Linked DNA regions of Homo sapiens: region 2 is linked to region 1. The links come from fine-mapping of genetic effects on gene expression. A gene starts in region 1. The other region holds a variant in brackets. All regions are shown on one strand. Distances are between the middles of the regions.

Region 1 (2,917 bases):
AAATAAATAGGGTATTAGGTTACAAATCAGTGAATAAAATAGGAATCTATGCATCAATAATAATATGAACACATAAAAGACACATAAAACCAAATATTGCTGGTGGACGTGTAAATGGGTACAATCACTTTGGAAACCCATTTGCTATTATCTACTAAATCCAATACATTGTTAAGAAGGGGGGGAAGCAAGGTATACAAGAGTGTGTACAATATACTACTATTTGTAAAAGAAAAGGGAATATGTATATGTATATATGTACATGGATCTAAACACGTGGTGTGTGTGTTCCCTGCTCGTTCACAGGTCATCTCTGGAAGGATTCACAAGAAATTGGCAATATGGCATTTAGTGCCTCCAGAGAGGAGATCTGAGTGGTTGGGTCACAGGAGTAGAAGAGAGAATTTTCCCTGTAATCTCTTTAGTATCTTTTTAATTTTGTACTAAGTGAATGTACTGCCTCTTCCAAAAAAAGTTGTTTAATAATGTTTTGTAAAAAGAATTCTTCTCAGCCAGGCGCAGTGGCTCCCAACTGTAATCCCAGCACTTTGGGAAGTCGAGGTGGGTGGATCACCTGAGCCCAGGAGTTCAAGACCAACCTGGGCAACAGGGTGAAACCCTGTCTCTACAAATTACAGAAAAAAAAAAATTGCTGGGCATGGTGGTATGCACTTGTAGTCCCAGAAAATCAGGAGGCTGGTGTAAGAGGATCACTTGAGCCTAGGGACATTGAGGTTGCAGTGAGCCCAGACTGCTGCCACTGCACCCCAGCCTGGGCAGCAGAGACCCTGTCTCAAAAAAAGGAAAGAAGGAAAGAAGGGAGGAAGGGAGGGAGGGAGGGAAGGATCTCTAAAAAGTGGCTATTCTCTGACCTCACTTCCCCCTATTTGTCCAACTTACCCCATTCCCCACAGAACTAAACTTCTCACCCTTTCCAGGAGAGGGCATGCTGTCTCTGTCCTGTACACCTACTTTTTCCTCTGCCAAGAGCACCCTTCCCTTCCTATGGCCCCTCTGAAGTGCCTGACCTGAGGACGAAATGAGGCCAGGATATGTCCCATGAGTCAACTCTGTCCCCAGCATTCACCACTACCAACCCACCCCCAACGCCCTGCCAGCCCCCGACACTCCCCCGCCATGAGTCTGTCATCTGAAACATATCCCCTTACCCCTTCCCACTCCCTCTGAGATGACTCAGCAGCCCCTGCCCCCCTTCAGCTGGGCACAGTGCCCCAGAACTCAGGAACATGGGTACCACCTGTCCCTCCGCCCACATAAAAGTCATTGAAGAGCTTGTGGGGCTGTGGGACCTGCGCCCTCTGGAGGAATTCCATACACCCACTCAACTCTGGCAAATAGGAAATTGTCAAGTAGGAGACAAGGAGCAAAGTCCTATCACAGCGGGAGGGGACGCCAGCGCCTGCAGAGGCTGAGCAGGGAAAAAGCCAGTGCCCCAGCGGAAGCACAGCTCAGAGCTGGTCTGCCATGGACATCCTGGTCCCACTCCTGCAGCTGCTGGTGCTGCTTCTTACCCTGCCCCTGCACCTCATGGCTCTGCTGGGCTGCTGGCAGCCCCTGTGCAAAAGCTACTTCCCCTACCTGATGGCCGTGCTGACTCCCAAGAGCAACCGCAAGATGGAGAGCAAGAAACGGGAGCTCTTCAGCCAGATAAAGGGGCTTACAGGAGCCTCCGGGAAAGTGGCCCTACTGGAGCTGGGCTGCGGAACCGGAGCCAACTTTCAGTTCTACCCACCGGGCTGCAGGGTCACCTGCCTAGACCCAAATCCCCACTTTGAGAAGTTCCTGACAAAGAGCATGGCTGAGAACAGGCACCTCCAATATGAGCGGTTTGTGGTGGCTCCTGGAGAGGACATGAGACAGCTGGCTGATGGCTCCATGGATGTGGTGGTCTGCACTCTGGTGCTGTGCTCTGTGCAGAGCCCAAGGAAGGTCCTGCAGGAGGTCCGGAGAGTACTGAGACCGGTAAGCAGGGTGGGAAGGGGATGGGTGTGGGGCAGGCAAACGCAGCATCAGCCGCCCCAGGGTTCGGCCCCCAGAATGGGGCGTCTGAGGTAGTAAGTAGCACATTAGACACCCCATCCACCTCTACCTGCTGGTGAATAGGAGACATGACCAGTGCCATGACGGGGCACAATTGGGTGCTGTGGAAGCAACAGGAGGATCACCTACCACCATGGGACAGGGAGGGGAGTGGGGAGGACACCTAAGGAACTGAGGTTTAAATCGAGATCTGTGCTTGGGAGGCTGAAGCAGAAGGATGACTTGAGCCCAGGAGTTCAAGACCAGCCAAGGCAACATAGTGAGATGCCGTCTCTACAAAAAAAAAAAAAAAAAAAAATACAAAAGCTAGCCAGGCGTGGTGGCACATGCCTATAGTCCTAGCTACTCAGGAAGCTGAGGTGGGAGGATCACTTGAGCCCGAGTTCAAAGTTACAGTGAACTATGATCGCACCACTGCACTCCAGCCTGGGCCACAGAGTGAGACCCTGTATCAAAAAAAATAAATAAATAAATAAAAAGAGAGAGAGAGAGAGAGATCTGAGGGATTAAGCAGAGTGTGGACGGGGTGGGGAAAATAAAAGAGTGTTCTAGGTAAAGATAGTAGGGGAAGTAGAGTAGAATCCATCAGACTGTGGAGAGAACGTTCAGAATAGTTTCCAGGTTTCTAGCATGAGCAACTGAGGGGAGAGCTGATGAAAAGTGCCATTTGCTGAGATGGAAGAAAGCTGTTTTGGACTTACTAGGTTTGAGATCACCTAGGGAGAGTATAGTGAGGCGAGGAGCTTGAGGAACCCCAGCTTCAGTCAAGAGTTGGGCCTGAGGTTTCCCTGGGATGTTCACAGCGATGTCCAGGAAGCAGCTTGTGCATGCATCTGGGTTTTGTGAGAGAGGTTGT
Region 2 (2,917 bases), 48 kb before region 1:
CAGCCTTGGGCCTTTCTCTGATGCATCTAGACCCTGCCAAAAACAGGAAGAGAAGAGGAACAGTGGGCAGATCAGGGCCCATTCAGGGCCTTAGGACCTCTTGCTGTGTGTTGGGAGTCAGTATCTGTCCCTGGGCGTGGGAGAAAAAAGTCCAGAGACGGTTCCCAAATCTCTACTATTGCATTTGCAGAGGTGTGATTCAGATATCATTAAGCTGGCTGGACAGGGAGAAGGGCTGGGAAGGAGACAGAGAATGTTGGACAATTTCTGCCAGATAAAACTGCACATAACAGAACAAGGCAAGTGTGTATATACGCAGACTGTGCAAACCTTTTATGTATGGTGTGAGTAGGTATGCTGTGGGGTATGTGTAGCATGTTATAAGTGTGGTGATCGTGTCATAGGCATGTCTGTGGTATGTCTAATAGGATGGGGTGTGTGGGGTGAAGTGATGGAGTGAGGCAGTGGATAGTGTGTACAGGCTTGTGGGTTTGCGTGCAGTGTGTAAGTCAGCTGGGCATCACAGCCTCAGTACTGTCTATGGTCAGCATCTCTCAGGCTCCTGTTAATGGGTCCCATCCCAGATCCCACAGACAGCTGCCTGCATCCTCCTTTGCTGCCCCACACCCTCTCCAACACACACACATATACACCATGTGCAGCTCCCATTAATACTTTAGACAAAACAAAAAATCTGAAAGAACAAAAGCTAGTTTATTGCCTGGCTGTGCTCCCCCAGACCTCTCTGACCCAATAAATGTTGTCCTTCCCTCATTTCCCCCATTTCCCGCAACCCCATTAGGCTCCAGAATCCCAACTCCCTTGCCCCCAAGATGTCAAAGCTACCCCTCAAGATCTGCTTTCTGTTCCATTCAGCCTTTAACAGCCTCATCTCCTGCATCCAGGGGTCACGGGTAACCAGTCCTGTAGCCAGCCAGCCACACCCTGCTGGTCATCCTCTGTCCATCTAGCTGGTTAACCACAGGTTAGCTGTTCCCCAAGCCACATGCCCATTCACTGATCAATTTGCCATCTGCCTGTCTCTCTAAGGCTTATTGGAGGTATACGGATGGTTTTATGGTTTTAAAAAGAGCCACGGAAGGGGGAAATGGAGAATTGCTTAATGGGTATAGAGTTTTCATTTTGCAAAATGAAAAAGTTCTAGAGCTCTGTTGAATATACTTAACAATACTGAGACATACACTTAAAATGGTTAAGATAGTAAATTTTATGTTATATGTTTTCACCACAATAAAAAATAGTGTTTTTTAAAAAGAACTTCATCCCCTCTCTGTGACCCTGCGGGCAGTTACTCTGTCTTTCTCAGCGATCCTCTGTGGGAGGCTTTGAAAAGTTTAGTGGTGACTTCAGGGCCAATGTCTCTCTGAAGATTGTCCCAACTGTGTCAGGATGTGTGGGAAGAGGAA[A/G]AGGGAAATTATCAGAGTCAGAGTGGAAATAGGGAAGGAAGAACAGACAATCTGGGGGAAACTTGCCTCTCCACCCTCACGGACGACATCTTAAGGCAAAATCTAATTAGAGGTCTGAGAGTGAAGAAATGCTCACAGTGTGGAAAAGGTGAGGTGAGTATGGAGGGAGGGACAGGCCTGGATGAGGACAGGGAGGGTCAAGGAGTCCAGAAGAGGACAGGGTGAGAGAGGGCTGAGGGGAAAAAAAAAAAAAAATCCTATTGGCACAATGTACACTATTTGGATGACGGGTGCACTAAAATGCCAGACTTCATCACTATACAATTCATCCATGTAACCAAAAACCACTAGTACCCCTAAAGCTATTGAATTTTTTTTAAGGGACCTGTTTTACTAAGAGATGAAAGGTTGGTATTGCCACTCATGTGTCCAGCTACAGGAATCCAAAACAATTATAACACAGCGAGACCCATAAAAATGTCCACATGCTTAGCCAATAATATTACTCTTAATTTACCCTAAGGGAATAAGCTAACAGAGCAAACTGAGACACACATGAAAATATTGTTTTCATCATTGTCTACCATAGCAAAAAAAAGATGGGACAGCGTAAAGTGCACAAGGATGAGAAGCGTTTGTTAAATGTTAGTGGAGAAATTCAATGGACTACTACAAGAATTTTTTTTGAAAGATTGTTCAGAATACCATGCGGTCTCATGGCAAAATGCTTACAGCAAACATTAAAAAAGGAAAAGAAGACATAAGGTATATACACTATGACTACAAGCATAGAATATGGGTTTGCAGTGGGACAAAGACTTGAGAGTGATATATGAGAAAAAAAGAATTTAAGGTGATGGAATAATGGTGGATTTATTCCAAATGTTTCCTAAATATTTTTAATTGAAAAAAACAACATTTTAAAAATTTGAAAACATCAGGATCTATTTCGTGTTTTCTTGGTGGTGTGGACATCTGAAAAGTTTTTTTTTCCTTTTTAATCAGCCAGCCCAAAATGTCATGAAGATTTATGGACGAAAGTAGAGAGGACTAATGAACTCAGATACTCCTTCTGTCCAAACTGACTACATGCAAGTTCATCTCCCAAAAGTGTAGAGTGAGGCTATTGGCCTCACAAGACATATAGTAAGTATGTGGTTGATACCTCAGGCTCAAAATTACAATTCTGGTTCTGCTGTTCACTGACTTTGTGATCTTGCATAGGTCGTTTAAACCCTCAGAGCTCTGGTTCTTTATCTGCAATGACAAAATAACAATTGTCACTAATGTTGTTATAAAGGTCAACTGATATACTGTATAATCCCCAGCACACAGCACTCTCCAAACATAAGCTAGAATAAATGGTTTAAGGCCACAAAAAAAAAAATATGTTGAGAGAGCAGAGTGAGGGTGGGATGAAAGTTAAGTGCAATGGATAGAACTTTGAGGCTCTGTTTCCTAAATATGAAGATGGCCAGACTAACCTCATG

The links. PIP is the estimated chance that this variant, and not a neighbour inherited with it, causes the effect. A credible set is the group of variants that fine-mapping cannot tell apart.
Region 2: its variant is the best candidate, but not a certain one, in a credible set for the expression of TMT1B in atrial appendage (GTEx, PIP 0.51).

Annotation. Positions count from the first base shown.
Region 1 is chr12:55,680,270-55,683,186 of GRCh38, forward strand. TMT1B (thiol methyltransferase 1B) reads left to right here and starts at 1,467. Exons shown (of 2, transcript NM_152637.3): 1 at 1,467-1,983. The coding sequence starts at 1,486. RefSeq lists an enhancer at 1,126-1,801.
Region 2 is chr12:55,631,936-55,634,852 of GRCh38, forward strand. No RefSeq gene overlaps it. Among named protein-coding and RNA genes, the nearest start is that of OR10P1, 3.5 kb to the right of the region's middle. The variant A/G (reference allele first, on the strand shown) is at 1,428.